Linked DNA regions of Homo sapiens. The protein of the gene in region 4 interacts with the protein of the main gene of each other region in a pairwise test. Each region holds a gene or a part of one and is shown on either strand. Other genes may lie near its edges. The genes, in order: MRGPRX3, NCR3LG1, TMPRSS2 and C3orf52.

Region 1 (7,297 bases), on a different chromosome or scaffold from region 4:
TTGTTTGCCTACTCAAGCCTCAGCAATGGCGGGCACCCCTCCCCTAGCCTCACTGCCACCTTGCAGTTTGATCTCAGACTACTGTGCTAGCAATGAGCGAGGCTCCATGGGCATAGGACCCTCCGAGCCAGGCACAGGATACAATCTCCTGGTGTGCCGTTTGCTAAGACCGTTGGGAAAGCGCAGTATTAGGATGGGAGTGACCCGATTTTCCAGGTGCCGTCTGTCACTCCTTTTCTTGGCTAGGAAAGGGAATTCCCTGACCCCTTGCACTTCCCGGGTGAGGTGATGTCTCGCCCTGCTTCGGCTCACACTTGGTGCGCTGCACCCACTGTCCTGCACCCACTGTCCGACAATCCCCAGTGAGATAAACCCAGTACCTCACTTGGAAATGCAGAAATCATTCGTCAGATTCTGTGTTGCTCACGCTGGGAGCTGTAGACTGGAGCTGTTCCTATTTGGCCATCTTGGCTCCACCCCCCTCCTGAATTATTATTCAATCAACAATGAAATCAAGATAGAAATTTAAAAATTCTATAAACTGAATGATAATAGTGACACAACCTATCAAAACCTCTGAAATACAGCAAAAGTGGTGCTAAGAGGAAAGTTCATTGTATTAAATGCATACATCAAAATGTCTGAAAGAGCACAAATAGACAATCTGAAGTCACATCTCAAGGAACTAGAGAAGCAAGAACAAACTAAACCCAACCCAGCAGAAGAAAATAAATAAAAACGATCAGAGCAGAACTAATTGAAACTGAAGCAAACAAACAAAAGATAAATGAAACAAAAAGCTGGTTCTTTGAAAACTTAAACAAAATTGATACACCATTAGCAAGGTTAACCAAGAAAAGAACAGAGAAGATTCAAATAAGCTCAATTAGGAATGAAACAAGAGATATTACAACCAATGCTATAGAAATACAAAAGATCTTTCAAGACTATTGTGATCACCTTTACATGCACAAACCAGAAAACCTGGAGGTTATGCATAAATTCCTGGAAACACACAAACCTCCTAGATTAAACTAGGGAGAAATAGAAAGTCTGAACAGACCAATAAAAAGGAATGAGATTGAAATAAAATTTTTTTTTAAATTGCCAACAAAAAGTACAAGACCAGATGTATTCACAGCTGAATTCTATCAGATATTCAAAGAAAAATTGGTATCAATCCTACTGAAGCTATTCCATAAAGAAAGAGGGAATCCTGCCTAAAGCATTGTATGAAGCCAATGTCACTTTAATACCAAAACCAGGAAAGGATATACAAAAAAGAAAACTATAGACCAGTACCACTGATGAATATACATGCAGAAATCCCCAACAAAATACTAGCTAACCCAATCCAACAGCATATCAAGAAGATAATCCACCATTGTCAAGTGGGTTTCATACCAGGGGTGCAGGATAGGTTAACATACACAAGTCAATAAATGTGATACATCACATAAACAGAATTAAAAACAAAAATCACATGATCATCTCAATAGATGCTGAAAAAGCATTTGACAAAATCTAACATTTCTTTATGATTAAAACCTTCAGCAAAATCGACATAGAAAGGACATACCTTAATGTAATAAAAGCCATATATGACGGACCCACAGCAAACATTATACTGAATGGGGAAAAGTTGAAAACATTGTCCCTGAGAACTGGAACAAGACAAGGATGCTACTTTCACCACTTCTATTCAACATAGTAGTGGAAGTTTTAGCCAGAGCAATCAGACAAGAGAAAGAAATCAAGGGCACCCAAATCAATAAAGAGGAAGTCAAACTGTCCCTGTTCACTGATGATATGATTGTATACCTAGAAAACCCTAAAGACTCATCCAGAAAGCTCCTAGAACTGATACATAAATTCAGTAAAGTTTCAGGATACAAACTAAATGTACACAAATCAGTAGCACTGCTATACACCAACAGTGACCAAGCTGAGAATCAAATCAAGAACTCAAACACTTTTACAATAGCTGTAAAAAAATACTTAAGAATATTCTTACCCAAGGAGGTGAAGGACCTCTACAAGGAAAACTACAAAACACAGCTGACATCATAGATGACACAAACAAGTGGAAACACATCCCATGCTCATGGATGGGTAGAATCAATATTGTGAAAATGACCATATTGCCAAAAGCAATCTACAAGTTCAATGCAATTCCCACCAAAATATCATCATCATTCTTCACAGAACTAGAAAAAAACAATTCTAAAATTCATATGGAACAACAACCAAAAAAAAAAAAAAAACCCGCATAGCCAAAGCAAGACTTAGCAAAAAGAACAAATCTGGAGGCATCACATTACCCATCTTCAAACTATACTACAAGGCTATAATCACCAAAACATCATGGCACTGACATAAAACTAGGCACATAGACCAATGGAAAAGAAGAGAGAATCCAGAAATAAAGCCAAATAATTATAGCCAACTGATTTTTGACAAAGCAAACAAAAACATAAAGTGGGGAAAAGACATTCTAGTTAACAAATGGTGCTGAGATTATTGGCAAGCCACATGTGGAAGAATGAAACTGGATCCTTGTCTCTCACTTAATACAAAAATTGATACAAGATGGATCAAAGACTTAAATCTGAGACCTAAAACCATAAAAATTCTAGAAGATAACATCAGAAAAATGCTTCTAGACATTCACTTAGGCAAAGACTTCATGGCCAAGAACCCAAAAGTAAATGCAACAAAAACAAAAATAAATAGATAGGACTTAATTAAACTAAAAAGCTTTTGCGCAGCAAAAACAATCATTAGCAGAGCAAACAGACAACCCACCGAGTGAGAGAAAATCTTCACAAACTAAGCATCTGACCAAGGACTAATATCCGGAATCCACAAGGAACTCAAACAAATCAGCAAGAAGAAAGCAAACAATCCCATGAAAGAGTGGGCTAAGGACATGAATAGACAATTCTCAAAAGAAGATATACAAATGGCCAACAAACAGGAAAAAATGCTTAACATCACTAATGATTAGGGAAATGTAAATCAACACTGTAATGCGATACCACCTTACTCCTGCAAGAATGGTCATAATTTAAAAATCTAAAAATAATAGATGTTGGTGGGTCTGTGGTGATAAAGGAACACTTTTACACTGCTGGTGGGAATGTAAACTTGCGCAACCACTATGGAAAACAGTGTGGAAATTTCTTAAGGAACTAAAAGTAGATCGACCATTTGATCCAGCAATCCCATTAAATATGTATAAATATATATATTTATATACCATGGAATACAACTCAGCCATAAAAAAGAATAAAATGATGACATTCACAGCAATCTAGATGGAATTGGAGACCCTTATTCTAAGTGGGGTAACTCAGGAATGGAAAACCAAACATCATATGTTCTCACTTACAAGTGGGGACTAAGCTGTGAGGACACGAAGGCATAGAATGATATAATGAACTCTGGGGACTTGAGGGGAAGGATGGAAGAGAGGCGAGGGATAAAAGACTACACATTGGGTACAGTGTACACTGCTCAGGTGATGGGTGCACCAAAATCTCAGAAATTACCACTAAAGAACTTATCCATGGAAGCAAACACCACCTGTTCCCCAAAATCCCAATGAAATAAAAATAATAATAATAAATGATTTAATTTCACAGAATTTAAAAAAGTTCACTGTTCAGAGTTTATAATAATGAAGTAAGAATGAAAAGTGTAGCAAGTGGTAGCCTCTGGACAATGGGACTCTAGATTTTCACCTTGCATACACTTCTCTGGCATTTGGAAAGAAAGTATACACATGAATATATCACCACTATGATAAAGAAAACATCAAAAAATTGTGTCAGGCCATTGTCAGCCTTGAATGGTCCCATGATCTACTTTTTCATTTGGATATAAAGCCTCATAATGATAGTTCACATTGCTTAATGTGATGCCTAGGCCCATAATTGATTTTTAAAATCAGGACAGCAATTACTTACAGGAAGTTGAACAAGATGGGACGTGATAGGAGAGGCTTAAATGTACTGGATATGGGACAGAGGCCAAGAATCATCTCAGTTAGGATTTGTGTCTCAAATACCTCTGGCCTCTGATTTGCCCATAGTCCTCATACAGGAAATAACAAGACTGTCCAGCATCTTCGTAAGCCTGGATTGCTCACCAGCTTTCATTTCAGCTCCTGTAGGCATCTCCTGAATTAAGCAACACAGAAAAGTCCTCTGAAGTCACTGAATCCCATAAAGGCTCTCTACCTTTAGCACAAGGGAGGTCTTCACCACTGGACAAAGAAGGAACGATAAGGGTAAGTACCAAGAACTCTCTTCTTCCACAGTCAGTTATGATTTTTGCTGTAAGATCATGTCCTTATGCTTCCACCTTGGTGCTACATGCAGGGGGTCACGAGCTTGTTTCAGGAAAAGACAGGAGACATGAAGCTTCCTTTCAGAAACTGAGTGCTGTCAACCCAAACTGTGTGAGCTCTAAATGGTGTCCCCCCTTCTAATTTATCTCCCCATATCACCTCCTTCATTCCAATCATTCAATCTGCCCTCATGGAGAGACTGCTGCCTCTTACATTCATTTAACGAGCAAGGGGACATGCAGGCATTTCTTCCCAGAGTTGAACTGCTATAGAGCCAGTTTCTTTGTTTCACTTACTTTTCAAATTTATTCTTCTTTGCCTATCTGGAAAGGTCTAAGGAAGATATAGATGGCCCAATAATTAAGGAGTGTTTCATGAGGAAAGTATTTACAAAGATGCACAGAGTTAAGGGTCAGGATCCTAAGCAGCAATACATAGGGGAGCACTACTTCCTCCCCTAGGCTGAAACGGACAGGGAAGGAGCAGTTACCATTGTCACTATAGCCATAGCTGTAGCCATAAGGGTGGGAGAGCATGAGCAGGCAAGTGGAGAAGCCCTGCGTGGCCAACGCACAGCCACACAGGCTGATATAGTTTGGATCTGTGTTCCCACCAAAATCTCATGTTGATTGTAATTTCCAATGTTGGAGGAAGGGCCTTGTGGGAGATGATTATTAGATCACGGGGATGGTTTTGCATGAATGTTTTAACACCATCCCCCTTTGGTATTGTTGTTGTGATACTGACGAGTTCTCATGAAATCTAGTTGTTTAAAAGCGTGTAGCACCTCCTCCCTCTCTCTTACTCCTGCTCTCACCATGTGAGACGCCTCGCTCCCCCTTTGCCTTTCACCAGGATTGGAAGCTTCCTGAGGCCTCCCCAGAAGCAGAAGCTGCTATGCTTCTTGTACAGTCTGTAGAGCTATTAGCCAGTTAAACCCATTTCCTTCATAAATTTCCCAGTCTCAGGTATTTCTTTTTAGCAATTTGAGAATGAACTAATACACAGACAGAGAGCCAGGAGATGGAAATCCCAAGGTGCTTTCCTGCTGTCTTCCAGTCTCCTGCTGGTGTCTCCCAGTGTCTCAATTCCACCAGAAACCAGAAATAAAAAGAATCCCACTGATGTGGTACATAGAAGCCACTCTCTTGGGATGTCAAACAGGATAAAGAAGAATGGAAAGCAAATCCTCATGGTAAATGAGACTATCCCTCTCACCTTCTTGTATCCTCCTAATTCCTGGGGCTTTCTCTATCTGATTGATCCCTGTCTCATTTCAGCTCTATCAGACTACTTTAATGTTTGGCTTGTCTTTCTCTACTGTCACTTTTATGCAGAAATGTTTGCATTTGTTAAAAATGCATAGAAAATAAAATGTAATTTTAAAAAGAACATATGTATTTTGTTTAGAATATAAGTTTGGCTGATCTAATAAAGACATGAAGAAGAAATATCTTAAACAAGAAAGTATAGTTGTGCCTCTGGGTCACTAGGTTCTGAATCTACAGATTCAACAAACTACAGGAGGAAACTTTTCCAAAAATAAAGGTGTGGCGGAGTTGTGTATGTACTGAACAGGTACAAACTTGTATTTCTTTGTCATTATTTCTGAAAAACTACAATATAACAAGAACTTATATAGCATTTGCATTTTGTCAGTTATTCTAAATAACTTTAAATGATTTAATGTATCTGGGAGAAAGTGCATAGAGTATATACAAATACCACATATAAGGAAATTGAGCATCTGCAGATTTTGGTCTGTGCTGGGGTTCTGGAAAGAATCCCCTGTAAATACACAAAAATGACACTCTTCGAGATCTGAACTAGAAGCTCCAAAGCATCATACATCAGAATTCCAAAAATTGCTGCTCCCCAGTTCCTAGAGAGTTGCCCTCATCCTTGTGATCCTACATGGTTCCCAGCGACATTAGCATTCCAGTCTTATGGAAAAAGGACGAGGGGAAGGAGAGGCTTTGCTCCTTCTATTAATCCCATGAGCCAGGACTTGCTTCTGTCACTTTTGTGATTCTTCCACTTAACAGCACCTGCTCATGGGATGTCATCCAGCATCAAGGAAAACTGGGATGTGGGTCCTTGTGCTGCTTGTACATTCTCAGAAAGGTTATGTGACCAAAAAAGGAAATCTTGGGGCAACCAGCAGTCTCTTCAGCCCCTGACTGTCTCTGATTCTGTGCTCACATCAAGATTTTTCAGGAACTCCTCAGAAATAATAAATGGTGGGGCAGAGAACAGAACTGGAGTCTCGTGCAGGACTCCAGGGACCAGGGGCTGGTATTGGACCTGCTCTTCATGTTGTGAACCAGGAAAACCCTTTAATTCTCTAGGCCTTAGCTTCATCTTATGTTATATGAGGATAATACCATAGACAGTCTTTAAAGAACATCATAGCATGTTAAACAACATGCTAAATGTTGGTGATACCACAGTGAAAAAGACAGGCATGACTTACTCCTTACGGATCTTCGGGTTTCATGAGGAAGACAAACATATCATACCATACCTATAGATGGACAAACAGTTTAGTGCTCTGAGTGTGGATAACAGAGGTTCTCCTTTTCCTCCCATTTCCTTTTTGGGCCAATCAGAGCTGTGGCAGCTTGTCTCCCTAAGAGAGCTCATGATGGATGCACTCACTCCTGATGCTCCTCTATACTCCCAGAGGAGGATGCATCTTCTTTCCACCTGGAGAGCTCCTGCCCATGTGCATTCTTGGGATTCCAGAGCAAACGTGGCCTCTGATAGGCAAAAAAGAACTCCTGAATTTGTTCCTAAATGGCACGCACTCACCTCTATTTTTCCCTTATTTCATTTGCTTCTCATTCTCTATCTGGAGTTTGTTTAGGTTAATTTTTTTTTTCAGCCCACAATTTTGACTGTCAACTTGGATTTAACTTGAGAATCACTCCTCTACTTTACCCCCCT
Region 2 (7,476 bases), on a different chromosome or scaffold from region 4:
TGAGTTTTCCTTAGTGATTTTGGGGACCCAAAATATTTTCCTTTCACAAATTCTAGTATACCTTGCTTTCACTCTTTCTGTCCAATTCTTTGTTTGACTGAAGCGTTTCAGAATTAAGCTGCAAACATTGTGATCCCTTACCCTAAATATGTGAGCATCTCTTATGAACAAATATTTTTTTAATCATAACCATCATATAATTATCAAATTTGGGAAATTTAACATTGTTACAATACTATTAATCTAACACATAGTCCGTATTCAAATTTCACCAACTGTCTCAATACTGTCCTTTATAATAATTTTTTCATGATCCAGGATTTGTGTGTTGGATTTTGTTGTAAGGTCTCTTTAATTTCCTTTGATCTGGAATAGCTCCTCAGTTGTATTTTGTCTTTCATGACATTTACATTTTTTGAGAGTACAGGTCATTTGTTTTATAGAATGGCTCTCAATCTGCATTTGTCTAGACTGGTCTTTCTCACAGTGTGGTCTGTGACTGGTGCTGGTCTATGCCTGGCTGTTACCTAATGGTGAGAAGGCCAACCAACATTACTCATGCTGTTGGAAACTTTTATAGCAATTCAAAAATAATTTTATGTCTTTTGAATCTAAGAATAAAAATTGAGGGCTTGGATTTTTATGTCTTTTTATTTCATTTCTCTAGTAATTCATTTTTATTTCACAAAATGACAGTTCTTCGTGGGTTGGACACTTATTTTTTATTTTTACTTTTATTTTTTAGAATTAAGAAAAAATAATAGAGACAGGATCTTGCTATGTTGGCCAGTTGGTCTTGAACTGTTGCCCTCAAGCAGTCCTCCTGCCTCTGCCTCCCAAAGTGGGTGAGCCACCATGCCTGGCCAGGTTGGACACTTTTAAAGAGTCCTTCAGCACAGCTACTTGGAACAACAATGGTCTAGAATGAGGTGTTTTTTGTTTGTTTTTGTGTTTTTTTTTTTTTTTTTTTTTTTTTTTTTTTTGGAGACAGAGTCTCACTCTGTCACCCAGGCTGGAGTGCAGTGGTGCAATCATGGCTCACTGCAGCCATGACCTCCTGGCCTTGAGCCATCCTCCCTCCCACCTCAGCCTCTCAAATAGCTGGGAATATAGGTGACACCACCACACCCAGCTAATATCTTGATTTTTTTTGTGGAGATGGGGCCTCACTATGTTGCCTAAGCTGATTCCAAACTCCTGAGCTCAAGTGATCCTCCTGTCTTGGCTTCCCAAAGTGCTGGGATTACAGGCATAAGCCACTACACCTGGCCTAGACAGATTTTTTGAAGCTAAGGACTGTGCTTTAGCCATCGCTGAATTCGTCACTCCTAGATTGTGCCTGGCAGAGTTCAATAAATTGTTGCTGAGGGGCAACTTGAAATGTCCCATTCCTTTAATAGAAAAGCTTTCCTTTCCTTTTTTTTTTTGAGACAGAGTCTTACACTTGTCACTCAGGCTGGAGTGCAACGGCATTGATCTCGGCTCACTGCAACCTCCGCTTCCCGGGTTCAAGTGATTCTCCTGCTTCAGCCTCCCGAGTAGCTGGGATTACAGGCGTCTGCCACCACACCTGGCTAAGTTTTGTATTTTTAGTAGAGACAGGGTTTCACCATGTTGGCCAGGCTGGTCTCGAACTCCTGACCTCAGGTGATCCACCCGCCTCGGCCTCCCAAAGTGCTGGGATTACAGGTGTGAGCCACCGCGCCCAGCAGAAAGCTTTTCTTATACTGAGCCAAAATCTCTCTCCAACTTGCTTTTGCCTTCAAGAACATCACCTAACATGTGTACTCACATACACAGGTGTTAGCTTTTCAGAGACTTACAAGACTGGTACCATTTCTTAAACCCCCAGGCTACTCCAAACAAAATGGGCTCAGCTCCTTTACTCATTTGTAGTGATTAGGATTAGGTTCTGCTGAAAATGAGAACATTTTAAATAAGAGTAGCTTACTGACTTTATTTCTTATGTTCCACAGGTCCAGAGGTGTCCTTCTAAAGCTGGTAGAGGTTTCACGAGTCATCAGGGACCCAGAACCCTTCTCTTTTGCTGTCCCTTTGTCCTAGTGCATGGTTTCCACACTGTGGTGCAAGATGTCTCCTCAAGCTCTAGGCATTACATCTGCTATCCTGCTGTCAGAAAGAAGGAAGGGGAAAAGAAGATCATTTCCTTCTCTTTAAGGACATTTCCCAGAAGTCACACAGAACATTTCCATTTATATTACTTTGGCCAGAACTTGGTCATATGGCCACATTTAGTTCCAGAATGATTAGGAAATGCAGTCTTTTATTGATCCCTGTGCCCAGGAAAATATTGGAGGCCTTTTTCAAGGAAAAAGGGGAAAACAGATATTGGTTGACAAATAGCAGTCTCTGCCATACTGTCCCTGGATACATGTCTTTGAGTGAATGTCCCTTATTTACCATTCTGATTACTTGTTGGATATTTTCAATATGTGTTACAATATGGTTCCAAAATTGTATGTGATATTCCAACAGCAAGTTGGATGCAATGTGTCATAAAAATGACCTCAGTGTCAACCAGCATTTGAATACCGTGTCTCAATGCTGTGCACCAATAAAGAACACAGAAAGTCAGAGTTTTCCATAAATAATTCCTGAGAATATATGCTTATTTTGTTTGAGAAGCATCGTGAGGTATCTGCTGTGTGCTTTAGGGTTGAATGGAAAGTTGGCAAAAGTATTAAAAGACATGTTCAGGCCGGGTGTGGTGGCTCACGCCTGTGATCCCAGCACTTTGGGAGGCCGAGGTGGGCGGATCACTTGAGGTCAGGAGTTCAAGACCAGCCTGGCCAACATGGTGAAACTCTGTCTCTACTAAAAATACAAAAATTAGCTGGGTGTGGTGGCAGGCACCTGCAATCCCAGCTACTTGGGAGGATGAAGCTGAGGCACAATAATCTCTTGAACCTGGGAGGCAGAGGTTGCAGTGAGCTGAGATCACGCCACTGCACTCCAGCCTGGGCAACAGAACGAGACTCTGTCTCACCAAAAAAAAAAAAAAAAAAAAAAAAAAAAAAAAGATGTTCAAATAGACATGATATTGGTAAAAACGAAAACACAGGTAATGACTTTTCATTCTAATGAAATATAAATAGAGAAACCTGCCGGTTTTACCCTTTAGAGTAAAAAGGGTACAAAAAAATTACCAAAACAGTAAAAATTACCAAAAGAGTAATTTGATAATTTCTACAGGGTGATGTGTATGTGTCACAACTTTGTGAATCACTATTCTGGGCATGTATAAGAAGTCGTCATATACCTCCATTGGGAATGTTATTTAATGATGTCACTAATACCAGACAAGGATGTCTCCTCAGGTAAGGCTCCTTGGAGGAGGCAGAGGTTGAGAAGAGGTGTAATTTAGGTTTTAAAAATTCAATAGCTGGACTTAACCTTGCATATCTCTACCTGTTATAACGGTGGTCCGGAAGGCTGCGATCTGAAGGCCCCTCAGCTAGTTGCTGCCACTGTGGGCACTCTGCGCATCTTTCACTTCTGAGCTCTTTCTGTATGCACTCTGTTCTGCAGATAAGTGAGAATGTGACTATTTGCTTAGTCAGTGACAGTGTCTCTAACCCTGGAAAGGAAGCTTTTACTCTCTCAGTTTTAGAGACATGTGAACAGGCTGGGGATATGAGGTCACTTACCCACTGTCTTATAATCAGCAGATGGCATGGTTGGCATTGGAGTTTAGGTCTGTCTGTGCTTTTCTGTACATTACATCCTTTTTAATGATGCGAAGGAAAAATGCAGTAGGGTCAATGAGACAAATGGAATGCAGGTTGCTGGGGAAAGAATGCAGGTTCTGCGTTATAAATGCACACACATTTACTGTGCCACTTGGGTTCTGAACTTTGCGGTTAAATTGATTTAAAAACTGGTGTAGAGGTGGTAAAACTTAATCACCGAATGAGAATATTTGGGTTTGCTTCAGGAGGTCGCAAGCCACTTCTTGATTAGTAGAAATGGGAAATTAAGGGCCACCTTCAGGCGTTTAACTGAATTGTCCTGGGGATTTAATTTGCCTTTCGACTTAATGCTAAATTTTTGTTGTTTTTGGTTTTTAAAGTAATGTAAGTTTATCGCGCCAACGGTAAGATGTCGCTCTGGACGCGTGCACCTGCTCTCGCAATCACCGACTGCGGTCAGCATCTTCCTTAGAGCAGCGCCCCGGGCCACTTGGATCCCGGTCTCAATTTACTAAGCGAACCCAGAGGATGCCCCGAGTCCTGGACCGCAGAGCCGCTCGCGAGAGGCACCGGGGCTGTAACCGCGCAACCTCGTGCCGCGGGCGGAGGCGAGGGAGGATTCCCCGGCCGGTGCCCGCCCCCGGGCTAAAGTGCGGCGCGGGTGGGGCTGGTCACGCGCCTGGCTTCCTGCAGTGCGAACCTGGGAAATCCAGGCGACTTCGCAGTTGCCGAAGGGATCTGAAGAAGTGGGATGTGCAAAAGCGCCGGCTGGAAATCCCGGCTGTGTCTCCGTCAACTCTTTACGCAACAGAGGTCTCCCCCTGCCCTTGGTTTCTACCGGGCCGCCTGCTCCCACTCGGCGAAAAAAATTACACAACAGCAGCCGCGGCGATGACGTGGAGGGCTGCCGCCTCCACGTGCGCGGCGCTCCTGATTCTGCTGTGGGCGCTGACGACCGAAGGTAGGGGGCGGCTGGGGTGGGCTGGGGCGGGGGCTCCTGGCGCCAGAGGGTCCTCGCGGGTCGGCTCCCTAGCATCCCGCCAGGGGACCTCAACTTCCTGGGGGCTGAGAGCTCTATTTTCTTTTCTATTTCTTCTCCTTTTTTTTTTTTTTTTTTTTTGAGACGGAGTCTCGCTCTGTCTCCCAGGCTGGAGTGAAGTGGCGCGATCTCGGCTCACTGCAAGCTCCGCCTCCCAGGTTCACGCCATTCTCCTGCCTCAGACTCCCGAGTAGCTGGGACCACAGGCGCCCGCCACCATGCCCGGCTAATTTTTTGTACTTTTAGTAGAGACGGGGTTTCACAGTGTTAGCCAAGATGGTCTCCTTGACCTAGTGATCCAGCCGCCTCGGCCTCCCAAAGTGCGGGGATTACAGGCGTGAGCCCCCGCGCCCGGCCTGGGGGCTCTATTTTCAAGCGTCCCTCCTTTGTGAGAAGCGGAGTCCCCGATGCAACAGGTTTACATTGAAGGCCTGCCCTGTGCAGGGTCGACACCTGTGAGAGCGGAAACGGTGCTTCCTTGGATGTCGCGCGTTTGGTGCCTCGGTATTTGGCGCCTCTCTCGCATCATCCGAGGGGCCGGAGGAGAGAAGAAAATCAGGGAATCGGTAAATTGGAAAAATCATTCATCCGCATATCAGTGGGTCCTCCTGGCTTTGCTAAGTTAGGTCTTTACTGAGAGAGGGAGGGGAGTGTTTTGATCTTGTGGTGACCTTCAAACGTTCTCTTGCTTTTTTGGGAACTCGTATGGGCGTGTTCTGCGTTAACTTAAACAGGAGACTAAAAGGCTGAAACGCGTATGTAGAGATATTTAAACTCATTTCTAACTAGAAGAATGGCAATTAAACAACAAGATGCTGCTTGACCCTTACTAGGCTGGCCAAAATACGCTCCTGGGTGCCGGGTGGTGGAGGTGGAATGTAGGAATCCCGGAGGCGCGCTCTGGGCGCCCCGAGTCACTGCAGGTGGAGGAGAGCCGCGTGTGGACCTCACCGTGGAGACCTTGGCGGCAGCTTCACACCACGCCCTTGCTGCTTGCCGAGCAGCGTGAACGGATGTTGAAGGCGTAGAGCCAAGTAAACAGTGGACATACAATGCAATACCATTTCCACAGTTTGAGAAACAGAAGATACAGCCTTAAAGAGAACAAAAATTACATGTTAAACACCTTAGAATGGCTGCCCGATGGGAGAGGGAAGTGGAAATAAAAACGAGTGAATAGTATTTCTATACATTTGCAATAAGCAATGTGAAAATAAGACAGTTCCGAGTGAAGTGTGGGCGGTGAAGTGGAAAGCCAAAATTGCGCTTGTCTCCGCGCTGCGGACTTGAAACGCCTGTCACTGCGGTCTGGAAACGCCTGTCGCTGCGGTCTGGAAACGCCTCCGCGCTCTATCAGTCTGGGTCTCCTCGAGCTCGAAGTGGCGCCAGTGGGCTGCCGCCGCGCCCACCCGGTCCCATGCCCGTCCCGCGCCCCCTCCCGGGCCCGGCGCCCCCTCCTCAGGGGCCTTGGGTCCCCGCCACTTTCGTCCGGTCTCGGTCCCCGCGGATGCTGGTGGTGGTGGAGAAGGGCCGCGAGTTCTCAGGGAAGCGGAGAGGGAGGAACGCCGTTTGGCTGTGCGGCGGCGCCCAGTGACGGCAGCAGCAGCAGCAGCTCCTGGAGGAAGCTAGTTCCGGCTCGTCCAGCCACGAGGAGCGCGGCGGCGGCTGCATGAGGGTCGGACCCCAGAACCAGGCGTTGGTGCTGGACTTTGGCACCGGAAGAGACTGTGAAATGGAAAACCGTTTCGGAAGCTTTCGCCTAACAAATCATTTCCGCCTACAAGAAATTCCTACACCTTAGGATGGAGCATCTGTTTGCCTGGCTGCTATTCTGCGTGGAAGCAAATTTAAAGTGGTACAAGAAAAAAAAAATCCAGTCATACAAAGGAATTCGTCAGATTTTAATGCAAGAGATTCTAGCCCGTCTTTGTATGAGAATGTCTTTAAAGGTTGTTGATATAGAAAATGTTTTAAAGAACGTTAGGTTTTATTTCAGAAATGAAGTTGAAAAGAGCAATTTGTAAAGCTGTAGTTAACAGTCCTCCCTAGTTGGAGAGCTCTAGAACTGGAGGTTCTCTATGTAGGTTATACCACTAGTTGATTTGAAAAGATAAATGCATAAATGCTTTTCCTTGGAAACAAGACTGCAGAAAATTCCAAGGATCTAGTCCTTGAAAAAGGCGAATGCTGTTAAGCTGTTAAGGTACTACACTCTGTACCTTTAAATGAAAATACATGGAGGTCCTGGGTGAGCGCTTGGGCGCTCTGAAAATAGACGAGGTTTCCCAAATTTGCCTTCTAAATTTTGATTTGTTGATTTAAATCTTCTAAATTTATGTAGTCTGGCACTCAGGTTTGTATTCCTTTTAAGCACATGTTAGTGTTTTTGATATTTTCCCTTCTCCCTCCGACCCCCCAATTCTTCTTCTTTTTTTTTTTTTTTTTTTTTTTTTTTTGGTAGTCACTTTTCGTTTTTAAGAGTGACAATACAACTAGGTGGCCTGGCTGTTTCATATCCTTGGTTTCTCCATTTCTTGGTTGGCCACCAGGGGGAAGCATACTGTTTTTTTGGTTACAGTTGACCCTATCTTCATTTTGTAGGTCAAGTCTGTTTTTGCTTTGATACATAGAACAGAAAGCTTGTCACCGCGTTTCCCTAATGTATTATTTTAAAAAATAGACTTGCACAAATCTTTGAGTAAGTTGGCAGGTTTTTGGATACATTTT
Region 3 (7,424 bases), on a different chromosome or scaffold from region 4:
AGCAGAGACATTTGTCTTACTCTGTTCACTTCTGCATTCCCAGCACCTGAGTAGCACCCAGCCTGTACTAGGTGCAGGTGCGCACAAATATTTGTCGATATTCCCTTCATCTTGGATTCCATGAGGTCTTTTGCCCAGCCTGTGGCTCTACTGTAGTAAGTTTCTGCTGATGAGGAGCCAGGATGCCCCCCACTACCTTCCCTGACGCTCCCCAGAAATCACCCAACCTTTGTACTTTTCCCCTTGTTTGAAAGGATTTGTTGTCTGTATGGCCTAGACGCTTTTGAGAAGGATATAAACAATATGTAAAATGAACCTTTGTGCCTGCCACTAAGCACTTCCAACCCTCCATAAAAATGAAGCAGCCAGGCTCCCTTCATTTGAAAGACTGTCAGAGAGAAATGCAGATTGCAAAGGAAGTGGGTGGAGAGAGCCTCTCTCTGTGGTTATCAGGGCAGAGGACAGGCTTAGATGTGGCCACCATGGGTCCAGGATGCCCGTCCTCACCAAGCCCCCTGTCACTCAGCCACGCAGGCCTTGGTGGGATCTCCAGGGCAGCTCTAAACTCACAATGAGTGCAACACAGGAGATCCTGCACCTCTAAACTCGTATGGCCCAGATACTTCAAAAGCCATTCCACATGCTGCTCTGTGTGATCACGATAAGAACACAGTGTATTAGGTAGGCTGGGCAGGATTTCTCCCACTTAGCAGATGGAGAAACTGAGGCACAAGGACTGGGGGAATCAACCAAAGTCATCCAGTCATTGAGTAGTAGAACTGGGATTAAAACCTGGACCTCCCACTTCCGAACCCAATGCTCCATCTGTGGGCCCTGCAGTCCTGTGTGCCCAGGAGCAGCCTCACCTTTCTCCTCGGTGGCCCCCCACCCGGAAATCCAGCAGAGCTGTTCTGGCTGCAGCATCATGCCTGGGTTGGGCAGACACACTGGTTTCACTAGGTCTGTTTCAAGAAGAGAAAACACAGTGAGCCAGGCGGGTATCACCTATGTCTCCACCTGGCCTTCCCACATGCAGGCTGCTGGGCCTGGCACCCTGGCCACCCTGCCCAGAGGACCCTGCATCCCAACAAGTCCCACATTCTCACTTTCTCCCCCTGCCAGACCTCTCCTTCTGGCAGGCAAGACGTTATGCTACTTATAAGTAGAATTATTTGCTAGCTCTGCTTATAAGAGGAATTATTTGCTAGCTCTGCTTCCAAAATTACATATCTCCAGGTGATCAAGACGGGAAAGACACACAGGAGGCAACAGCCAAAAAGCCGATGGAGTCAATGGAGTCAGCTTTCGCCCCAGAGGCACCACGCCATTGCTCAGGCATTCGCTCTTCTATATGTGAACCATTTCCCAATGTGAATACAGACATGCTGTAGGGAGGGCTGAGGTTTTGCTTCTTCTGTATCCACATGGGGCTAGAACATTCCAGACCCTTGGATGGACCAGAGTGGGACCGAATAAGAGGCTAAGAGAAAGCATGTTTGTCCTGAATTAAGCAACTTGGTTTTAGAATGTATCTTTAAAAATCAAGGATCTTTACACATTTTAGGCCAGTAGTTCTCAACTGGAAGTGACTTTGCCTCAAAGCGGATGTTTGGCAATGTCAGCAGGCAACACTGGTTGTCACAGCTTGGTAGCTACTGGCCTCCAGTGGGTAGAGGCTGGGGACGCTGTTAAACATCCTACAAGGCACAAGAGAGCCCTACAACAGAGAACCACCCAGATGTCAAGGGTGCTGCAGTGGGAAAGCCCTGTTCTAGCCTTTTCCATGCCTGGCTTGAATCACCACCACTCAGTACAGTACAGAACAGATGTGGTGGCTGCTGCCTCCCCCAAAATGCGGCAGGTGCTCTTAGCCTCTGTGAGCCTCTCCCATTGGCCACCCGCTGCACGCTACCCTCGCTCAACGCAAATGCCTCCCTTCCATTTGGCATAGCACAAGTGTCATTTCCAATCAACATCTCTTTAAGATTCTGCCAACCTGCTTGCCAAGCCTGAGCCACACGTACCGTTGAAAGTCAGAGGCTTCTGCAGCTTCATCAGCGCAATGTCATTGTTCTTGGTCTTGGAGTCATAATTTGGATGAGAAATCACTTTTTCTACTTGGTATCCGGCTCCATAGAACATGAAAGATTGTCTCAAAATCCCCGCAAATGCCGTCCAATGCCATGGATTGTTAAGAGGTCTGGGAGAGAAGAAGGACTCAGTATCTCAGAGCCATAAACACAGAGCTCTCAGTGGATGAACTTCCAACGTCAGAAGCTGGAGGCAAGACACCCAGAGGCAGGATGGTTCACCAAAAACCACACAGGGAGATAGTGGAAGAGGTGCTCGGTCTCCCCTTCTCCCCCACACTCCCCCAACCCCGACTCCCTGCCTCAGCCCCCCACATCATCCTTCTTTCTGGCTCTTGCATCACCTTCAAGGAATCTGCAGCACCCACAATGGGCCGACATCCCTCCCTGGGGTTTCAAGGCCATTTCTAGCAGGACTGGCCCTTATTTTCCTTTGTACGCCAAAGCATTTCCTGGCACATGGTAGGTGCTTAATAAATGGATACTAATGAACAGACTTGTCCGATATCAATCAAACCATTTCCTTTATCCAAGAGTTTCCCTCTTAAGAGAATCCCAGCTCCTAGTGGGCCCAGAGCACCCAGTGGTGTGAAGAGGGGGAGAGAAGGGAGCACCCTTGGGTAACAGCCCTTGAGAGAAACCCAGTTCCTAGAGGGCCCAGAGCACCTGGGGGTGTGAAGAGGGGGAGAGAAGGGAGCACCCTTGGGTAACAGCCCTTGCTTCCTTGACCTTCATAACAGCCCGAGAGGAGAAGGGCATGCCCATCTTATAGTTGTACATGCCATGGATCAGAGACGTTGAGTGAATCGTCTAAGGGCACGCAGCAAGAGAGGGCTGGGCCAACAGTCAAACCCAGTTCAGCCTCTCTCTAAGGCAGAAAAATACATCCGCCAAGTGAGGCCTCCTCCAAAGCAGCATGTGACCAAAAGCACTATGTGTTTAAGGAAAAGGGGAGGGGGTGGTAGCGTCCATAAATGCTAATACTGTCACGGCTAGCCTCACCCCTACCTAACCCTCTGCATGAGCAATGCTGTGGCCAAGAACGCTTAACCCCAGGGACCTTCCAGCAGGGCAGCCTGAAGCCTGTCTGAGTGTGCCCTCTCCTGGGACTAGCGTCCCGGAGACAGGATACCTCAGGGGGCAGGGGCTTTGCTCAAGGGCAGGACAGAGCTCAGAGGACAGTGGCTGGAAGGAACGCTGGTCACGGCGACATCGTGGAGAATGTTCCACCTGCACCCTGTGCCCTGCGTGCAGGGGACACTCAGTGCATACAGCCATGCACTGCCTGGCATGAGCGCACTTGATGTCTCACAGCCCTAGGAAGCAGGTGCAATACTCTCCCCATTTAAACACAAGGATGCCGGGGCTGCAAGGGTTGAGACCTGCTCAAGGTCACAGGGTGGCTGTAGGCCAGCCCTGAGCCCCCACCCGGCCCGCGCCGCCCCTGGCATACTTTTCCACGCAGTGGGCGGCTGTCACGATCCACTCGGGGGTGATGATGGAGCCTCCGCACACGTGGACGTTCTGGACGTGCAGGCTGACCTGCCAGGGCCAGGCCCCCGGGAGCGCGCTCTCGCCGCCCACAATCCTGCTCTGGCGGCTTGAGTTCAAGTTGACCCCGCAGGCTGAGGATGACAAACAGGAGGCCAGTGGGGTGAGACCAGCAGAAGCCGCCCAGCCACCCAGCGCCCGCCCCTCCCAAGGGTCTCCCAGGCTGCAAGGACAGGGCAGGGGCACCACTGCTGGGGATGGACTTAGGGGGCTCCTGGGGGTCTCCTCTTGGGGAAGGGAGGATGCCCCTCCAGCCCACCCAGACCCAGGAAGCACCACTTCCCTGAACACTCCTGTGATCCCATGGGGTCTCCCGGGACCCAGGTGGGGGTGTTCTGGATAACAAGGCCCTGGGGACTCCTTGAGTCTTGGAGGGACTGACACCACTCAGGGACCCCAGATTCTCACACAAAGAAAAGGAAGATGGGAGGGGCAGGGCTGGAAGTGAGTGAGGGGGTGAGGAGACGAGGAGGTGAGTGAGAAGGTGAAGGGGTGAGTGAGGGAGTGAGTGAGGAGTGAGGAGGTGAGGGGGTGAGTGGGTAATTGAAAGGATGAGGGAGTAATTGAGGGGGTGAGGGGGTAATTGAGGGGGTGAGGGGATAAGTGAGGAGGTGAGGGGGTGAGTGAGGAGGTGAGAGGGGTGAGGGGGTGAGTGGGGGGTGAGGGGGTGAGTGTGGGGTGAGGGGGTGAGTGGGGGGTGAGGGGGTGAGTGGGGGGTGAGGAGGTAAGTGAGGAAGTAAGGGGGTGAGTGAGGGGGTGAGTGAAAAGGTGAGGGGGTGATTGACGAGGTGGGGGGGTGATTGACGAAGTGAGGGGGTAAGTGAGGGGATGAGCAAGGAGGTGAAAGGGTGAGTGAGGGGGTGAGGGCATGAGTGAGGAGGTGAGGGGGTGAGTGAGGAGGTGAGGGGGTGAGTGAGGAGGTGAGGGGGTGAGTGAGGGGGTGAGGGGGTGAGGGAGTGAGTGAGGGGGTGGGTGAGGAGGTGAGGGGGTGAGTGAGGAGGTGAGGGGGTGAGTGAGGGGGTGAGGGGGTGAGGGAGTGAGTGAGGGGGTGGGTGAGGAGGTGAGGGGGTGAGTGAGGAGGTGAGGGGGTGAGTGAGGAGGTGAGGGGGTGAGTGAGGAGGTGAGGGGATGAGTGAGGGGGTGAGGGGGTGAGGGGTGAGTGAGGGGGCGAGGGGGTGAGTGAGGGGGCGAGGGGGTGAGGGGTGAGTGAGGGGGTGAGGGGGTGAGGGGTGAGTGAGGGGGCGAGGGGGTGAGTGAGGAGGTGAGCGGGTGAGTGAGGAGGTGAGGGGGTGAGTGAGGAGATGAGGGGGTGAGTGAGGGGGTGAGGGGGTGAGTGAGGGGGTGAGGGAGTGAGTGAGGGGGTGGGTGAGGGGTGGGTGAGGTGGTGAGTGAGGGGGTGAAGGGGTGAGTGAGGGGGTGAGTGAGGGGGTGAAGGGGTGAGTGAGGGGGTGAGGGGGTGGGTGAGGGGTGGGTGAGGGGGTGAGTGAGGGGGTGAGGGGGTGAGTGAGGGGATGAGGGAGTGAGTGAGGGGGTGGGTGAGGGGTGGGTGAGGTGGTGAGTGAGGGGGTGAGGGGTGAGTGAGGGGGGTGAGGGGTAAGGAGGTGAGGGGGTGGGTGAGGGGTGGGTGAGGTGGTGGGTGAGGGGGTGAAGGGGTGAGTGAGGGGGTGAGTGAGGGGATGAGGGAGTAATTCAGAGGGTGAAGGGGTGAGTGAGGGAGTGAAGGCATGATTGAGGGGGTGAAGGGGTGAGTGAGGGGGTGACTGAGGGGTGAAGGTGTGAGTGAGGAGGTGAGTGAGGGGGTGAAGGCATGAGTGAGGGGGTGAATGGGTGAGAGAGGGGGTGAGTGAGGGGTGAAGGGATGAGTGAGGGGGTAAGTAAGGGGTTGAGGGGGTGAGGGGGTGAGTGAGGAGGTGAAGGTGTGAGTGAGGGCGTGAGGGGGTGAGGGAGTGAGGGATTAGTGAGGGGGTGAGGGGTTGAGTGAGGAGGTGAGCAGGTGGGTGAGTGGATGAAGGGGTGAGTGAGGGGGTGCAGGGGTGAGTGAGGGGGTGAGGGGTGAATGAGGGGTTGAGTAGGGGGTGAGTGAGGAGGTGAGGTGGTGAGTGAGGGGGTGAAGGGTGAGTGAGGGGGTGAGGAGGTGAGTGAGGAGGTGACGGGGTGGGGTGAGGGAGGGATGAGGGGGAGAGTGAGGAGGTGAGGAGGTGAGTGAGGGTTGAGGGAGTGAGGAGGTGAGTGAGGGTTGAGGGAGTGAGGGGGTGAGTGAGGGGGCGAGGGGGTGGGTGGTGAATGAGAGGTTGAGGGGGTGAGTAGGGGGTGAGTGAGGGGGTGAGGGGTGAGTGAGGTCTGCTGCCTTCCCTGCTTCCTGTGTGTGAGTGTCTTCTCCACCAGGAGATGAGTGCATGGGCAGAGGGCAGGGCGGGTGCCACGCACCCTTGGGGCTGTGCTGGACCCCCACTCAGGACCTAAAGAAGACCTGAGCCAGCCCTGCCGGGATGGGACGGTGTCAGCTCCTTCCACCTCTTCAAATGAAAAGCTGAGCTCAGGACCACGGCCCCACGACAGCACTGGGCCATCCCAGAGGAGAGGGACGGTGGCTTCCACATTTGCAAACAGTTTGGAAACTGTAAGCACTCTAAACACAGAGATGGGGACACCCAAGTCTAAGCCACCGTCCAAAATTCAGGAGAGAAGAGGCAAGAGCACTGTTGTTCTCTGGTCTTGTCCCTCCTCCCGGGTCCCACTGGCTGATGAGCACCTGGTGGCCACACGGTGGTGCTGGACCACAGCCCCGCAGATGCTCCAAGTCCACGTTAGGTGGCTGCCAGGGCTCACTAACGCCACCCCCCTTTGCTTTCTGGAGAAAGAGACCTGCCGGGCCTCCAGCTCATGGGTGGCATAAAGTGTAGGGCTTTGTCAGCTTCTTGAGCGTGCCTGATCTCAGGGGGTGTCCCTTGGACCCAAGGCTGAAGGTGTCTACAGGCCATGGAAATCTAAACCAGGAGCTCCTTGGAAAGAGCGAGACGCCGCTGGGCACATTCCAACCCGTGACCCCACCTTCTTCCCTCCCACGCCCCCAGAGACACAGGGAGTACTGTTCTGAAAGTAGAGAGCTTTTCCTAGTTAGAAGTATCAAAAGGGGGACTCCAGATGAACTTACCTATACAGCGTAAAGAAACCACTGCTTTTGAAGAACAGGCATCACTGCAAAAAGAACAGGGGAAATTCTGGTCACGATAGTGCGGAGTCACCTGCCTCTCACATGCTTAGAAATCAGTCATTTCTTCCGATGTTCCCTCTCCTGTCTTCTGAGACATAGAAGGGTCTGCTAGTTACAACTCCAATAAGGTAAGTAAATCCATATAGGGACAGTGGCAAAGACCAGACACTGAGCCAAGGTACGCGGCTCACATCCCCACAGTGTGACCTTGGGCAAGTTACTTAACCTCTCTTAAAATTGTACCAGCTCCTAGGACGGTTGTGAGGGTAAGTATACAATAATGCTAGTTTTGTTTTTCCTCTTGGAATTTAAAATCATCTTCTAATTTTTAAGGAAGCCATTTGGAAACCTCTGGGCTCCTATAACTGCTTTAAATTTGTAGTGTTGAAAGCAATATAACCAATAGTTTCCCTAGGATTAGAAGAAACGTAAGAGTTACTCATTTGGGAGTCAAACATCCCAGGTTATGGATGAAGAGGAAGTAACTGATGCATTTTGTCCTGCAGTGAATTTCCCAGGCTATGCTGAGAAGGGAAGACGCGGCCCCTGGCATGCAGAGCTGGCCCGCC
Region 4 (7,424 bases):
AATAATCTGTACAACAAACCGCCATGACACGAGTTTACCTATAGAAGAAACATGCACATGTATTCTCCTGAGCCTAAAATAAAACTTTGTTAAAAAAATAAGTAAATATCTTTACTGTAGTGCAAAGCCAGAGGGAAGATTCCTGGCCTCCAGCTGCATAAATGCTGGAGGACACTGTTCTTTTTACTCCCTTAGGTCCTACATTTAATTCAACCTATAGTATTCATTGAGGGTCTGTGATGTGCTAGACAGCATGCCAAGTGCCAGGGCCACATTGTCTGTGCCTTCAGGGGTCTCACAGTCCAAGTACAGGAAGTGACTAAAAAGATCGTTTTATAATAGTGTGGTATGTTCTAGTGTGTTGTACAGTGGCAAAGGAGGGGCATCTGAGCTACCTCAGGTGAAGATGAAGGCATGAAAGGCCTGTTAAGTGAAGTGATGCTCAGGATGAGTTTTGAAATGAGGTAGGAATGTTCTAAATAAAAAAGCATGGGACATTAAAGGATCTGCAAAGTAGTGTACTGTGGCCTTCCCATGCTTTGTGGTGACAGCTGGCAGAGATAAGGCTAAAAAGGAAGGCAGGCGTCAGGTCATGAAGGCTTTCCCACTCTTCAATAAGGCACCAAAATATTTTAATCAGCAGATTGACACAGTTAGATTTTTCCTTTTAGCCTTTCTGTGTTTTGGTGGAGAAAGCCAGGAGGAAGAGATCAGTTAGAAGGTGTTACAATAGTCCAGGTGAGAAATGAGGGAGACTTGAACTAGGGCAGTGTCGGGAAAATAAGGAAGATTTGCGTGAGATTTAAGAGGTATTCTCACTCAATAAGAGTCCATGACTGATTGGGTGGTGGTGAGGAGAGCATGACTCCAAGCTCCAGTTGAGTGATTGGGCAGATGGATGGCGGTGTCAGTCATGGGATGAGAAACCCAGGAGAATGAACCCTCTGTGGAAGATGGAAGCTCTGCAGCCAGACTAGGACCGTTGGGTGGGGCATCCTGATCATCCTGTCAAAGACAAGGTGGTTCACAGCCAGACCCAGAAATTTTGATAAGAAAATCTAGGCAAGAGCAGGCTGCCCTCCATTAAATTCTTCTCTGCCATTGCTAGGTTGAATGGAGTGAGTGCTGTTTATCTAACTTCCATTCGATTTGATTCCTACAAAAGCTCCTGAAGAGGCGATTCCATCCAGGTCACATCAGAATCAGTTTCTGGGTACCCACGCATGAGATTTCATTGCTTCTTTTATCACAGGAGTTGGTATCCTGTGATGATTACTCCAGATTTCTCTTTCTCCTTCTCTTCATTTATATCTTTAAATTTTTTTTAGATTGTTTAAATTTATTTATTTATTTTTATTTTTTATTTCCGTAGGTTTTGGGGGACCAGGTGGTATTTGGTTACATGAATAAGTTCTTTGGTGGTGATTTCTGAGATTTTGGTGCACCCATTACCCGAGCAGTGTACACTGTGCCCAATTTGTAGTCTTTTATCCCTCACCCCCACCACCTTTTCCATCAAGTCCTTGAAGTCTCTTCATTTATGTCTTATCTTCACCTCCTTTTCTCCTTTCCTTCCACCTGCTTCCTGGGGCAAGTTGCTGAGTGAGACGCTTCTTGCTACTTTCCTCTTGGCTGCTTTTTTAATGGAGAGGTTTTTGCATTTGCTGAGCAGAAATAAGATGAGTCAGCATCCACATGTGTCACCTGTTGCATAGTAGACTGTCTATTTCAAAGGTAAATGAATGTTCATTTTTCATTTTACAACCATATATCTTGCACAGAGTCAGATATGAGGAAATTCTGCGGGTATTTTGAGCTCATCACTAGGTAGTGGCAAAAGAACAGGGACTGACATTGATGCCTGTGGTGGGTCCACAGATTTCTTTGAGCCAGTTTCTTCGCTGATAAATGGAAACCAGTGCACTTTCTCTGTGTATCTCAGGTGCAAATGAGATTACATAAAAATAACTTGAAAAACATTTTAAAAGAATTATCTTATTTACAAATGATCAAAGTAAGGCATAGTGAGGTGACAGATTCCTGCCCTTCATTCGTCAACCAAATATGCTCAGGAACAAAAATTAGCACCTAAAGGTATTGCTGTCTTATTGTCAGGTCAATAACTCCTTTCTTCCATTAGGTCAAGTTTCAGAAGTTTCTGGATATAAAAGGTAAATGGAAGTGGGTATTTGTGGGGGAAAAATTATTTTTTTCTCTATACCCACATTCAATGCAGAACACTTCTTTGGCCGTGTGTGTGTGTGTGTGTGTGTGTGTGTGTGTTTTCCACACCAACCAATTATCTGCCACCAGCTGGGTGTCTTGCAATCCAGTTCAATTCTGACATGATCTGCCTGGAGTTAGTGCAGACCCCATAGTTTAAGGGTTCAGCCCCACAAAACTTCCCTCATTTAAGATGCCAGTTACGGGAGGCTGAGGCAGGCGAATGGTGTGAACCCGGCAGGCAGAGCTTGCAGTGAGCCGAGACCGTGCCACTGCACTCCAGCCTGGGCAACAGAGCGAGACTTAGTCTCCAAAAAAAAAAAAAAAAAAAGATGCCAGTTCAGTTACAAGTCTAGGTTGTCACTTGTGCTTCTGACCAACCAGCTGCAAATTGGAGGTCTCCAAAACCCCCACCTTGGGTTTGGTCATTTGCTAGAATGGCTCACAGAGCTCAGGGAAGCATCACATTTATGGGCACACTGTAGAAAATAGAGGATATCAAAAGCCAGATAAAAAGGTACATAGGGCGGACACGTGGGACAGAATGTGGGCATCCATGTCCTTTCAGGTGTGCCACTCTCCCTTGTAAATGTGTTCAGCCACCTGGGAGCTCTCCAGACTCTGTCTTTTAGGGATTTTTATGGAGATTTCCTCACATAGGCATGGTGGATTATTAGCTTGCTTTCCAGCCTCTCTCCCCTCTGGAGGATGGGGGTGGAGGTGGGGCCAAAAGCTTCAGATTTCTTCTTCTTCTTTTTTTTTTCTCCAGACAGTTTTCACTATATTGCCTAGGCTGATATCAAGCTCCTGGCCTCAAGCGATTCTCCCTGCTCAGTCTCCCGAGTAGCTGGGACTACACGCATGCACCATCCCACTCCACCACACTGGCTGAAAGTTCCAAGCTTCTAGCTGCGGCTTGGTCTTTCTGATGATCAGCCCCCATCCAGCAGCCCGCCAAGAGTTGCCTCATCAGAAATAAAGACACTCCTATAACCCAGGAAACTGCAAGAGATTTAGGAGCAGGTCTGTGTCAGGAGCTGGAGTAAAGACCAAATGTTAGAGTAAAAGATGTACCCGGCGCCCCTGTCACTCAGGAAGTAACAAGGGTTTTAGGAATTCTGTGCCAGGAACTGGGGCAGAGACTAAACAGTATACATATTGTTATTATATCACAGTATTGGAACTTTATGCCCTTTCCCTTGACTTTTCTAAACACAGGCCCTGCCATGTGTCACTGCCACAGTGTTTTCCTCTCAGGGTTGGGGCCATTACTCTGCTTAAGCCAGCCTGTGTGACTACCACACCCTGTGCATGGGTTAGGAGTTAATGATGGCACCTGCCTTATTCTGGAAGCTGGTCTCTAATTAGCCACTGCATCAGACTCAGCTAATCAATTCGCTGAGCTCCTTGCTCAGTTTGCACCAAGCCTCATAGACATTGTGTGGGAGACACAAGACTAAGGGTTGAGGAACCACCCTATTTCACTTCTTTGGGCCCAAAGTGGACAGTGTGACTAACAGCTCCCCAAATGTAAATATGTCCTAAGTACAGCAGAGGAGCATGATCAAAAAGAATCTTCGAGTGAACACTAAAAATGATTTAGTCGACCACTCCATATGTTACCTTAAAATTTTAACTTAAAAATTTGCTGAAAGCCTGTTATGTGCAAAACACTGTGCTGGGCCCTAAAGATTAATAAAGGAAAGAAGGGAAGGAGGAAGCAGAGAAGACTGGAAGGAAGGATAAATATCACCTTTGCCATAGGAAGCTCAATCCAAAAGGAAGAGAAAGACATGAGTGCTTGACATTAGTGCTTGAAAAGATTCTCCTCTGCAGCATCCTCATCCTCCTCTCCATCACAGCATCCCCGTGAAAGCTGCTTTCCTAGTTCCCGAGTTTTCTAAATGACTGTCAGCCTATCGGCAACATCCTGTGCATTGGGGCTTAAGAGCTGTACAATGACTCAGTCATTTTCTCCGAAAGTTTTTGTCACTTTAAGCTTCTTTCCTCCTTGATATTCAGGAGACACTTTCCTTCACTGTATATATATCAATTTCTTCTTCACTGGGTAGTGTGGTCAGATGGGAAGAAGCTGGTTTTTAGTGTTCATAACATGTAGGATTGAATTTTGGCTTCTCCTTTTACTAGCACAGTGACCTGGGACAGGTTTTCTTCATCTCATGGAATGGAGTGCTGTTTAATTTTCCAGTAAAAAGGGGAGATATATTAATGCCTGTTTTGCCAGGTTTTTATAAAGATCACAACAGTAGTGACAAGATTAGAAGAGCAGAAATAGCAGGCACTCTCATCTTTTGTTCTCTTTGAGATATGGGTTGTACATGTTGAGTTAAATGGGAGTGTATTGTGGAAGTGCAGCGTCCTTGACATTCCATTTGGAGTTGAGGGGAAACAGGGTAAGCTCCCCATAGGGCACTGCTGTTTTTTGTATGTTCGACTGCTTGTTATTGAATAAAGTAATAGGTCATTAAGCCATAATGGCTGTAGCTGGGGATGGCACATGTTCCTAGTACTACTAGTTTAGGATTCAGATATCTGAAACACAACTACTCAATGCCTGGGAAAAGATACTTGTAACATAATATCAACAACTAGTATCCAGAATATAAAACTAACCACTTCAGATAGATAAGAAAAAGACAGATAAGCCAAGAGAAGGAAAGGAAATGAGTGAGAAATTCAGAGATGAAAAGTCCCAAAGAGTTAATAAACATGAAAAGATGTTCAACCTCACTAGTAAGCGAGGCAGTACAAATTAAAACAATGTGAAGCACTATTTTATACTCCTCGGAGTGGTAAAAATTTAAGTTTGGTAACACTAAGTGCTGGTAAGGATGTGGGAAATGGATATTTATACATTGCTGGGAGGGGTGGGAAAGGGAGAACAATTTTGTGAAGTTGGAGATGCACCTACCCTTAAACCCAACAATTCCTTTTCTTGGCATATGCCCATTGGAAACTCCCGCATGTCCAAGAAGAGATGCATGGAGACATTAAGGATGATTGCTTCAGCATAAGTTGTGATGGGGAAAATTGAGAATAGTGCATGTGATCATCATCAGAGGAATGGATAGGCTGGTATACTCATTTAAAGGAATCTGTGCAGGAGTTAGGTGAATGCCTTTCATTGAGATTTACTTTATGGGTAAATCTTAAATGTAATTTTGAGTGAAAAAAGGCAAGTTTTAGAAGATTATGTAGAATATGGTGCCTTTTATTTGAATAAAAACACAAATTATATTTTGTTATGATTACATAAATAAGTAGTAATTTGTAAAAATATGCAAGGAAAGGATGCATGCCAGCTTCAGAATGATGGTTAGTATTAAGAAAGAGAGAGAGGAGGAACTGAATAGTATGTAGGAGTCACTTTAGCTTTATTTTGTTTCTTAAATTAAAGGGCTGAACCCAATATAGCAAATATGAAGACATGAAAGCTAGGTAGTGGAAACACAGGTGTCATTATTTTTTATGATGCTTGCAATATTTCATGCATAAAATAAAGCCTCCATATTTTTGCAGTTCCCCTCTTTGTCTCTTTGTCCAGGGGATGTGCTAGACCCATGGCTTAGCATGGCTGTTTGTCTTTACACTGAAGCTCTGGAGAAGGGAGAAAGAAGCCCTGGGCTAAGCAATGTCCCAGGTGCTAAGTGGTCTGTGCTGCTGCTGTCCAGCAGCCATTTTGGGGTCTTCTCTTCTCTCCTTCCTATGGTCTGTGAGGCCTGTGTGGGCTCCAGCTGCTGATATTCTCACCACTAAGGCCACAGGGTGCCAGTGCAACTTCTGAGAGAAACTGAGTCATTTGGTCCTTATAAATGGAGTTCTTTTGAAGTAGCATTAACTTGAGTTTTGATTTATGGTGGGCTCAATTCTTGATCCAGAGCTTCCAGATAACGTTGATTCCAGGCTGGAGTGGAATCTCCTCTGCCTTAGAAGCAGTTTTGCTTTGTCAGGTGATGTGTAATATGATCTGTCGGTAATGTGTGTGGTTTAATTTGCTTCTGTTTGTTTAGCTCACAGATGTGTACAGTACATCGCCCTCTCTGGGTCGTTATTTTACTTCAGTTGAAATAGTGGACTTCAGGTAAGAGTGTGGAACATTACATTTTGCTCTCTTTCTCTGGAAAGAGATCCCCCCACCCCACCCTTCGTCATTTACCTAGCAGGGATTCCCAGAGCCTCAGAGCATGAAGGGAACCTGTAATAGAATCACAGAATGTCAGTGCTGGGAAGGTCTTTTACACCAACAGGCTCAACTCCCTTATTTTACAAATGAGAAAAAGGAAGCCCAGATTAATGGTATAATTCAACCAGGGTCACACAGAAGAGGGGAAAAGCCAGTCCCAGGTAAACCATTTCTGTTTAACAATGAATGCTCAAATAAGCTAAGGGTAGAAGTAGAAATAGATCTCAGGTCGTGCTGTGATGCGAGTGATACATGTATAGGCATTTGCTTTTGAGGAGCACAAGTAATACAGGAGTACATTCTCCTTGTTTAGTATTAAAGATGTAAAGAGGGGCCGGGCGTGGTAGCTCACGCCTGTAATCCCAGCACTTTGCGAGGCCAAGGCGGGCAGATCACTTGAGGTCAGGAGTTCAAGACTAGCCTGGCCAACGTGGTGAAACCCTGTCTCAACTAAAAATACAAAAATTAGCCAGGTGTGTTGGTGGGTGCCTCTAATCCCAGCTACTCAGGAGGCTGAGGCAGGAGAATCTCTTGAATTCGGGAGGGGAGGTTGCAGTGAGCCGAGATTGCGCCACTGCACTCCAGCCTGAGTGACAGAGTGAGACTCTGTCAAAAAAATAAAAATAAATAAAAATAAAAAAAAGAAGACATAAAGAGGTATGCACAGGAAAAGTCTCCCTTCTGCCTCCTTTCTTCTCCACTGCCACCACCAATAACTAATGCCATTCCCTTCCATGGAGGTAATAGCTGTCAAGAGTTGAGTGTAATTACTTCTGTTCATGTATCTACCATAGGCACCACAAATACTACACACACATAGGATATACACACCCATATGTATTTTTTATTTTTTAAATTTCCTCCTCATCTTTAATGTTCTTGAGATGTAGGCATCAGGGTGTATGTGTGTAGAGTCCATTTATTATCCTTTTACATCATTGGGACTATTGGAGATGACTTAAAATTTATATCAAAGCTTCATTATCCATTATGCCTG

What was found.
Region 1: the proteins of C3orf52 (region 4) and MRGPRX3 interact in binary tests that used the Homo sapiens proteins (3 or more experiments, as listed by UniProt).
Region 2: the proteins of C3orf52 (region 4) and NCR3LG1 interact in binary tests that used the Homo sapiens proteins (3 or more experiments, as listed by UniProt).
Region 3: the proteins of C3orf52 (region 4) and TMPRSS2 interact in binary tests that used the Homo sapiens proteins (3 or more experiments, as listed by UniProt).

The regions. Positions count from the first base shown.
Region 1 is NC_000011.10:18,128,449-18,135,745, forward strand, and holds the start of MRGPRX3 (mas-related G-protein coupled receptor member X3), read left to right. Parts: upstream 1-4,122; 5' UTR 4,123-4,291; intron 4,292-7,297. UniProt on the Homo sapiens protein: Orphan receptor. Probably involved in the function of nociceptive neurons. May regulate nociceptor function and/or development, including the sensation or modulation of pain. Potently activated by enkephalins.
Region 2 is NC_000011.10:17,347,369-17,354,844, forward strand, and holds the start of NCR3LG1 (natural cytotoxicity triggering receptor 3 ligand 1 precursor), read left to right. Parts: upstream 1-4,431; 5' UTR 4,432-4,601; coding exon 4,602-4,671; exon of another isoform or gene 4,672-5,315; intron 5,316-6,096; exon of another isoform or gene 6,097-6,604; intron 6,605-7,476. Other genes in the region: NUCB2 (nucleobindin-2), read left to right, coding at 1,977-1,996. UniProt on the Homo sapiens protein: Triggers NCR3-dependent natural killer cell activation.
Region 3 is NC_000021.9:41,469,782-41,477,205, forward strand, and holds part of TMPRSS2 (transmembrane protease serine 2), read right to left. Parts: intron 6,840-7,424; coding exon 6,796-6,839; intron 3,716-6,795; coding exon 3,544-3,715; intron 2,201-3,543; coding exon 2,025-2,200; intron 963-2,024; coding exon 867-962; intron 1-866. UniProt on the Homo sapiens protein: Plasma membrane-anchored serine protease that cleaves at arginine residues. Participates in proteolytic cascades of relevance for the normal physiologic function of the prostate.
Region 4 is NC_000003.12:112,103,289-112,110,712, forward strand, and holds part of C3orf52 (TPA-induced transmembrane protein), read left to right. Parts: intron 1-6,254; coding exon 6,255-6,325; intron 6,326-7,424. UniProt on the Homo sapiens protein: Has a role in LIPH-mediated synthesis of 2-acyl lysophosphatidic acid (LPA). LPA is a bioactive lipid mediator involved in different biological processes, and necessary to promote hair formation and growth.